Homo sapiens: one gene and its partner. The protein of the gene in region 1 interacts with the protein of each later gene in a pairwise test. Each region holds a gene or a part of one and is shown in the gene's direction. Other genes may lie near its edges.

What was found. Proteins that work in one complex are often made in the same cells at the same time.
Region 2: the proteins of RBPMS2 (region 1) and AOC1 interact in binary tests that used the Homo sapiens proteins (3 or more experiments, as listed by UniProt).

Annotation. Positions count from the first base shown.
Region 1 is NC_000015.10:64,741,363-64,745,198, reverse strand, and holds part of RBPMS2 (RNA-binding protein with multiple splicing 2), read left to right. Parts: intron 1-3,836.
Region 2 is NC_000007.14:150,850,190-150,855,682, forward strand, and holds the start of AOC1 (diamine oxidase [copper-containing] isoform 2 precursor), read left to right. Parts: upstream 1-2,327; 5' UTR 2,328-2,369; intron 2,370-3,914; exon of another isoform or gene 3,915-3,974; intron 3,975-5,493. UniProt on the Homo sapiens protein: Catalyzes the oxidative deamination of primary amines to the corresponding aldehydes with the concomitant production of hydrogen peroxide and ammonia.

The DNA of each region.
Region 1 (3,836 bases):
GGAGCAGGTGTATAAGTAAATCTATAGGTATGAATCTTAGAAAAACTGCAATACATATTTAATCTTTTAAAAACTTAAATATTAGGGCCAGGCGCAGTGGCTCATGCCTGTAATCCCAGTACTTTGGGAGGCCGAGGTGGGCAGATTACCTGAGGTCAGGTGGTCAAGACCAGCCTGGCTAACACGGTGAAACCCCGTCTCTATAAAAATACAAAAATTAGCTGGGCGTGGTGGCGGGCACCTGTAACCCCAGCTACTCAGGAGGCTGAGGCAGGAGAATCGCTTGAACCCAGGAGGCAGAGGTTGCAGTGAGCCAAGATCGCGCCACTGCACTCTAGCCTGGGTGACAGAGCGAGACTCTGTCTCAAAAAAAAAAAAAAAAAAAAAAAAAAAAAAAAAACAAAACAAACCAAAAAAACTTAAATATTAGGACTTAAAATAAATAATAGTAAGTGTAGCTCTACATTTTGGATACCTGGCTAGTACACCATTGTACGAATGTGTCCAGCTCCCTGTAGATGGTAAATTGGTTTGTTTATACAGTTTTGCTTACTGATAGCTATACAACAATGGATATCCTTGTGTGTACTTCTGGGCACCTCTTCTGTTTTGTTTTCTTTCTTTCTTTTTTTTTTTTTTTGAGACAGAGTTTCACTCTTGTTGCCCAGGCTGGAGTGCAATGGTGTGATCTTAGCTCACCTCAACCTCCGCCTCCCAGGTTCAAGTGATTCTTCTGCCTCAGCCTCCCTAGTAGCTGGGATTACAGGCATGTACCACCACGCCCAGCTGATTTTGTATTTTTAGTAGAGATGGGGTTTCTCCGTGTTGGTCAGGCTGGTCTCGAACTCTCGACCTCAGGTGATCCGTCCGCCTCGGCCTCCCAAAGTGCTGGGATTACAGGCATGAGCCACCGCGCCCAGCCATTGTTTTGTTTTCTTTATGATAAATTCCTAGAACTATGACACGGTGAAAGTGTAGACTTACCAGTCTGGGTTAAATGTTTTAATTTCGGATAAGTGAGGCTTCCATATCTTTGGTTGTTTATATCTTTTTTTTTTCCTTTCTCTTTTTTTAGTTATTTTTATTTTTTTGAGACAGAGTCTCACTCCGTTGCCCAGGCTAGAGTGCAGTGGCATGACCTTTGCTCTTTGCAACCTCTGCCTCCTGGGCTCAAGCACGATCCTCCTGCCTCAGCCTCCCAAATTGCTGGGATTACAGGTGTGTGCTACCACGCCCAGCTAATTTTTGTATTTTTTTGCAGAGACGGGGTTTCGTAATGGTGGCCATGCTGGTCTCAAACTTCTGGGCTCAAGAGATCCGCCCACCTCTGCCTCCTAGAGTGCTGGGATTACAGGCGTGAGCTGTCACACCTGGCCTTATATTTATTCTTATGTAGGTTCATCCCGTTGCTTGCTTTCTGGTGTATCTTCTCAACTGGTCAGTCCCAGGATCTGAGAGACGGCTGAGTTTGCATCCTCCGCTCTTTGTTTTGAAGCAGCCCTCTCGGAACCTGGTCACTATAGCCTGTGGGGGGTACTCTCAGGAGCCCCCCCCCCCCTGGGCACAACTGGAGGCCCTGAAAGGACACTGCGGGTGCCCTGTCTTGCTGGCCTGGCCCCCTGGGGGTCTCCTGTAGCTGGAGCAGAAAGAAGAGCTCTAGGAAGGGATTGTGTGGCTTCTAGAGGACCCAGGCCACTGGCCTATGCCAGGCACCCGGAGGAAGCGGAAAAGCAGCCCTTCTAAATGCATTCCGTCTGCTTCAGTGGCACAGCTGTCCCAAGCCCAAATATGGGAGCTTTCCTCCACTTTCTCCCCAAGGAGTCCCTCAGGCTGGAGGGAAAGTCGCTGCTTGGGAAGCAGGAATCCCAGCACCTTGTAGCGAGAGTGTAGGGCAGGATCCAGCAGATATGCTGAGGGCGGCCTTAGGCAGTCATTCAAGGCCTTAGCTTCCCAGTGGTGAAAGAGGTTGGGTTGCAGGCCTCCTGAGCTCCTTCCATTCTGTCGTCCATGTTCTCCCCTTGTCCGGCCCTGCGGGACACCCAGCCCGTCCGGGATTTCCTTGCTGTGGGGCTGCCGGAGGCTACATGAAGGGCAGTGGTCAGGGCCCACTAAGGGGCTCCCTGAGCTGGTGCCAGCCGCCGGCTTCTCTGATAGCAGCATTGCTCGTTTCCTCGTGTGTCCCTCTCTTGTGGAATAAGTGCTAGTGTCCAGCCAGGTTTCTAACTTCCCGCTGAGCTCCTGGGATGTGGTGGCTGGAATTCTGCAGTGTACAAAACAGCACCTAGAATTTGGCGGGGATAGGAACGGGTTCTTAGGAAGCTTCCATCAGCCCCCAGACGGCCTGGCATGGCTTACCCAGGAAGCAGGAGTTCCCAGCAGCCAAGTGGGTAACTGGGTCTGCCTGCTCCAACCTCAAGGGAGCTGTCTGCAGGCCCAGCTTCTACTCCTTTCCTGCCACACGCTCATGTGCTGCCCCTTCCCTTCCTGAGGGGACTCCAGCTCCCCTCCCTGGATGCTCATCCCCCAACCGCAACTCAAGGTCCTGTGTTGTCCCGCTCCCCCCGCCACACCCCTTTCCCTGTCCTGGGTCAGGCTGGGACAGACATGCTTCACCGTGCATAACTGGGGCAGGCGGCCTTCCCTGCGGTCTTGGCAGTCAGCATACTTGCCTTCCAGATGACTGGCCCACAGGGAGGAGGGAACGTGCCATTTTCTTGACCAGTCTCTGGGAACCCAGCTTTGGGGCTACTGCTCTGTGGGGCCTTCTGGCAAGTGCCAGGGTTTAGGCAACTTCCAGGCACTGGTGAGGATGATCTCAGATAGCTGCCGCCCACCTGACGTTATAGACCTCTGGACTTAGAGGCTTGTGATGGAGGGCATGGCACAGCAGGGGTGGGAAGGTCAAAACGGGAGCCTCAGCTGGGTCTCATCCATGGCTTCTCAGAAGAATCAGGACTGATGTTGGAGAGTCCTACCCCTTGGGGTCTACACGGACTTTGGGTTTTGTTTTGTTTTTTGTTTTTGTTTTTGTTGGAGACGGAGTTTTGTTCTTGTTGCCCAGGCGGGAGTGCAATGGCGCGATCTCAACTCACTGCAACCTCCGCCTCCCGGGTTCGAGCGATTCTCCTTGCCTCAGCCTCCCGAGTAGCTGGGATTACAGGCATGCACCACTACGCCCGGCTAATTTGTATTTTTAGTAGAGATGGGGTTTCTCCATATTGGTCAGGCTGGTCTCGAACTCTGAACCTCAGGTGGTCCGCCCACCTCGGCCTCCGAAAGTGCTGGGATTACAGGCGTGAGCCGCTGCGCCCGGCCTTGTTTGGTTTTAATAGAGACATTATCTCCCTATGTTGCCCAGGCTGGTCTTGAACTCCTGAGCCCATGTGATCCTCCCACCTCAGCTTCCCAAAGTGTTGGGATTACAGGTGTGTGCCACTGCACCCGGCCTTACTGTATCTTTACATCCTGTCTTACCTGATCCTCACAACCACATATGACTTCGTCATTTCTGTCCTATAGCTAGATGAGAACACTGAGACCCAAAGAAGTCAAACAAAAATGTATGAGGCTCATTCTTTTCCTCCTCCTCCACAGAATTAGGAATTCCGTGCTGTGTCAGTAAAGGGGAAGGGCGGGTTGCTGGCACCACTGCCCCCAGCTGCCAGGGCTCCCACCAGTATAGTGGCCCATTTGGATTGGGCTGATTGGGGTATGAGACGCCTGCGTGACTTTCCTTCGCTGGAACCTGTGTCCTGCAGAGGAGGCACATCAGGCAGTGCACTCCCACTTGCCGGATAGAGAAACTGATGCTTAAAGGTGAGTAACTGGCCCAAAAT
Region 2 (5,493 bases), on another chromosome or scaffold:
ACTTTTTAATCACCTCAAAAAGAAACCCCATAAGCATTAGCTCTCACCCCATCCCTCCATCGCACCCCAGCCCTAAGCAACCACTAATGTGCTTCTCATCTGCTTGAGAGATTTACCTACCCCACACGTTTCATATAAATGGAATAATGTGGTCTTTTGTGACTGGCTTCTTTCATTTGCCGTAGTGGTTTTAAGGTTCATCCACATTGTGTCATGTAACAGTGATTCCTTCCTTTTTATGACTGAATGATGTTCCATTGAGTGGATAGACCACATTTTGTTGACTCATTTATCAATGCAGAGACATATGAGTCGTCTCCACTGTTTGGCTATTGTGAATAACACTGCAGTAAACACTCTGGTACAGGTTTCCCCATGGACATAGGCTTTCCTTTCTCTTGAGCATATACCCAGGAGTGGGATTGCTGGGTTATATGATAACAACGTTAAGTCATTTGAGGAACAGCCAGACAGTTTTCCGAAGTGGCTGCGTCATCTCACCATGAACTGCCTGTGAGGCTTCCAGTTTCTCTGCCTCCTGGCCCCACCTGTTATTACCTTGCTTTTGAATTCTAGCCATCCTAGTGGATATAAAGTGGTATCTCCTGGTGGTTTTGATTTGCATCCCCTGATGACTAATGACATTGAACAGCTTTCCATGTGCATATTGGCCATTTGTGTATCTTCGTGAGGGGAATATCTATTCAGATCTTTGGCTCATTTTTAATTGGATTATTTGCCTCTTATTATGGAATTGGAAGAGTTCTTCTTACATTCTAGATATAATTTTCTTATCAGATATATAATCTGTGAATATTTTCTCCCATTCTATGCTTTGTCTTTTCATTTTCCTGTGGGTGTCCTTTGAAGCATAAAAGTCTTTTAATACTGATGATGTCAATTTATCTATTTTTTTTTCTTTGGTTATTTGTGCTTTGAGGTCACATCCAAGAATTAGATGTAAAGTCAAGCAGATTTACTCCTATGTTTTCTTTTTAAGAGTTTTACAGTTTTAGCTCTTACATGTATGTCTTTGGTCCCTTTCGAGTCCGTTTCCGTGTGTGAAAGGGTCTAACTCCATCATGTGCATGTGGCCCCTTTCCCTTTAAATCTTTGCAAGTCTCTTTTCTCGATCCATCCTCACTCCATTAACTTTGTCGCAGTTTCCTTTGTGGAATGGAAACAGATTGTAGTCCTCAAAATCAGGTTGTTCCTGAAACTCTCTTCTAATCCAAATCCCCCCAATTCTCTGCGGAGTTGGTGAGCCCATAACTGAGAATACATAACTCACAGTCCTCTTGAACACTGAGGGTGAAAGACGTTAGCATTCATTGTCTTTGTATCAATCATCATTTTAACATGGAAGGCAAATCCCCTTCCTCAGAAACACCAAAGACCTTCTGGAATTGCAAGCAAGCTTCAAGTTGACTAAGTGTGTTCACCTTCCTTCATCTAGCTGCCAGTGCACACTGAAATGGCTTGCATTGCGGGCAGCAGGAAGGATGATGATGAGAAATACAAAACCCCTATAACCACAAAGCGGTGTGCAATCCCTGAGCAACCAAACCTTGGTAATGGGGGATGATGACCCCTTGGCACTCCTGAGCCACGAACTTTTCCTGACTCTATTCTTTCCTTTCCAACTAGGAGTTACCCCGGTCACCACGTTCGCCCTTCTCAACCTGACTAAGTGGGCGTTAGCACTGTCCGCCCACTGCATGGGCACTACCTGCCCCAGTGTCCTCTCCCCTCTCCGCTCTGTGCCATAGCCTTAGCTACCCTGGCCAGCTTTCTCCCAGCCAAGTCCTTCCTCCTTTCTGAATCTGGTCAGGGTCTCAAAGATCGTTAAAAAGCCGCCAAAGTTTGCAACTCGTCTTGAGTGGCTGCTCCTCCCAAACGGTTCTGCCTCTGGTGTCTTGTTCTAGGAGCGGTTGAATTCTCTGTTTTGCTGTGGGTGCCAGCCTCTATCAGCCCCTGCCCTGGTCCATCTGTCAGCTTCAGGTAAGACTACCGGCTAGGAAATGGCCCCTTGTCCTTATCTCTGCCTCTAAAATATGCCACCTAAATTAACAGATCGTGGCATTGCATGGCTCGTCACAGAGAAGCCAAGGCAAATTCTTGTGGAAGGCGGCACTTGTCTGGAAACAGACTCAGGACAAGTGTGCTGCACAGCCAGCTTCCTCAAACCCACTCTCGCCACTGTAGCTGCCCACAGAGGCACCTCCCAAGCCATAGGCCCCTCCTAGGCCAGCTCAGGCCTCACCTTGTCCCTCCCTGCAGGGCGGGGTCTGATTGACTTCAAGAAGGAGTCAGAGATCAGCTTAAGGGCAAAGGCTGGAAGCAGAGCGAACTGGGAGCAGAGCACACAGGTGCGTTCTGATGGGTATTCGGGAGAGTCAAGAAGGGGCTGACCTGGAGGACAGAAAAGCAGTGGAAGGAGGGCACAGAGTGAGGGGCAGAAGAAACAGGACACAGAGGGAGGAGGGCCAGGAAGTGAGGGCGGGAGCCCAGCACATCACAGAAGGTGCCCGGGTGCTTGGTGGCAGGCAACAGCCGGCCAGGGTGGAGTGGGGAAAGCTCAGAGAGGAGGGTGAGCAGGGAGAGGGCTTGCTTCCTGTTCCTGCCTGGAGGTCTCACCAGCCACCACCCCCACTGCCACTGCACATGGGGACAGAGGTTTGTCCTGGGGAAAGCAAAGGTCTCTTCCACATCTTTCTCCTTCCTGGAAAAGCAAAAAGAAACGTGGGTATAAGAGGTTGTAAAAAAGGAGACCCAGCCGTGAAAGGACATGGAGGTACCCTAAATGCACACTGCCAAGCAAAAGAAGCCAATCTGAAAAGGCTGCAGACTGTAAGATTCCAAATACAGGACGTTCTGGAAAAGGCAAAACTATGGAGACAATAAAAAGAGCAGTGATTGCTAGGGTTTCGGAGGAAGAGGTGGAGCACAGAAGATTTTGGGGGAGGTGGAACTATTCTGTGTGATATTCTAATGGTGGATCCATGTCATTGTCCGTTTGTCCAACCCATAGAATATGCAGCAGCAAGAGTGAGTCCTGATGTAAACTGTGGGCTCTGGGTGAGAGTGATGTGCAGGTTCATCAGCCACAAATGTATGGCTCTGGTGTGGATATTGATAGTGGGGAGGCTGCGTGTGTAGGGGCTGTGAGTATACAGAAACTCTCAGTACCTTTCGCTCAATTTTGCTATGAACCTAAAATTCCTCTTTAAAAGACTCCTATTTAAAAGACTTTAATAGACTTTATAAAGTTTGTTAAAAGACTTTTAATAGACTTTTTAAAGACTTTTAACAGACTTTATAAAGTCTATTAAGAAATCTATTAAAGTCTATTTTTAAAAGTCTATTAAAAAAAAAGTCTACTATAATCCCAGCACTTTGGGAGGCCAACGCAGGAGGATCACTTGAGCCCAGGAGTTCAAGACCAGCCTGGGCAACATAGTGAGATCCTGACTATATATATATATATATATATATATATATATATATATTTATTTATTTATTTATTTAAGTCTAATAAGAAGTCTATTTGGGGCCAGGCCTGGTGGCTCATGCCTGTAATCCCAGCACTTTGGGAGGCTGAGGCAGGTGGACCACTTGAGGTCAGGAATTCAAGACCAGCCTGACCAACACGGTGAAACACCATCTCTACTAAAAACAAAAAATTAGCCGGGCATGGTGGTGCACACCTGTAATCCCAACTATTCCAGAGGCTGAGGCAGGAGAATTGCTTGAACCTGGGAGGCAGAGGTAGCAGTGAGCCAAGATCGCATCACTGCACTCCAGCCTGGGCTACAGAGCAAGACTGTCTCAGGAAAAAGAAAAAATAGTCTATTTAAAGAAGAAAAAAAAGAGGCCTGGCCAATATTTAATAGGAGAACACAAGAACTCACCTCATATCCTTCCTGCTGGCTCTGGGTTCCGCCTGCAGCCCCTGCCTCACCTGCTCCCTCCAGGTAAGCAGGGCCTCCGAGAGCCCAAGATCATGTGGGTTCCAGGGTCTTCTGCCAGCACCAGAGGGCAAGACAAGGCAACTAGAGGGACATCCCCATGAGAGGCCATGACCATGGAGCAAAACGAGGGCAAGGGGAGAGCCCTCGGGGAGAGGGGCATGGGAAAGGGAGAGAAGGACATCTCAGATCAGCCTTTACCGTGGCCTCCAGGGCTAGAGAGCCCTCGGGTGATGGAACAGGCCCAGCCAACACCTTTCATTTGTCTATGAATCAAGAACTGCCCATCGTGTACAAATTAAATACAAAGTGCTAAGGGGACTAGTGGAGAAGTATGTTAGTTGGGGCCAAAAACAGCATTCCTCGGCAGTGCGGGGTTTCAGCTGACCTCAAAAGGTGGCAAAGGATGTGACACTGGCCCAGAGTCGGGTGGGAAGGGACAATGTGCAGCTGAGCTTCTCTGGAGGAAAAAAGCCACGGGAAAACAGGGCCTCTAGTTAACACATGGGTTGTGTTCCCAACGCTTGTGCTTCGGAAATGTGATGTGTAAATGCATTTTCCAAAAACAAAAGCAAGAAATGAAAAGCGCTCATGATGGTCAGGTTTCCTCAGTGGGTCACTCCACGATACACCCAAAGTGGAGCTGCTGCACCTCAGTTACACCTCACACCCTGTGCCGCCGACTTTCCAGGTGAAATCCTCGGGGCCTCCCTTGCAGGCAGCCTGGGCCCCCTGGGAAGAGGCTGGGCCAGGCAGAGGTCTGAGACAGGAGTGGATTAACCCTCTCTGCTACCTGTCTGTCTGCACAGGAGAACGAGTTTTCTCCAGGTTTACCCCCAGGGCTTCTGATTTAGGGAGCAAAAGGCAACTACCTATGAAAATATGAAAACAAGGATCTCTCAGAGTCCAACCCACTCATGCATCCACCTTATAAATCAAGTGTCTGTGCCTCAGGCACTGCTTGCAGGAAGTGAAAAGCACAGCTGAGACAGGGAGGAATCCTGAAGCGGGGCTCCCAGCTCAACCCAGAGCCTTGAGGAAGGGGGTGCAAGGTGGCAAAGGCAGTGCTTCTGTAGGGAAATTTCACGGTGACGGCAGCCTTCCAGGGAGGCCCACATCACCTAGGAGGACAAGTTAGGGTCTGGAGAAACTAAGGCTGGGAGACAGCTCCAGCCAGCATCTGTAGCAACAGCGCAACAGGCAAGAGTAACAGTCTCCCAGAGACTCCGCACACAGCACATGGGAAGACAGAGCTGTGGCCACCACGTCTCCCAGCCCTGCAGGAGGCTCACAGCTACAAGCACAGGATTTTACAGCTGCTTGGGGAATGGGGTTATGAGGTGAAGACCCTGACCCACCCTCCCTGAGAAAGGAAAAGGCATCTTCCTAAGATGAAACCCTCCCTGAGGTCCCCTCCTAGTAGCCTTGGGTGGACAAGAGAGGTGAATGGGGCACAAAGAAGGCTAGGCAGGACTGGGCACCTCTACCTCACCCCCAAAGCCATCAGTCTGCAGCCTAGTCACAC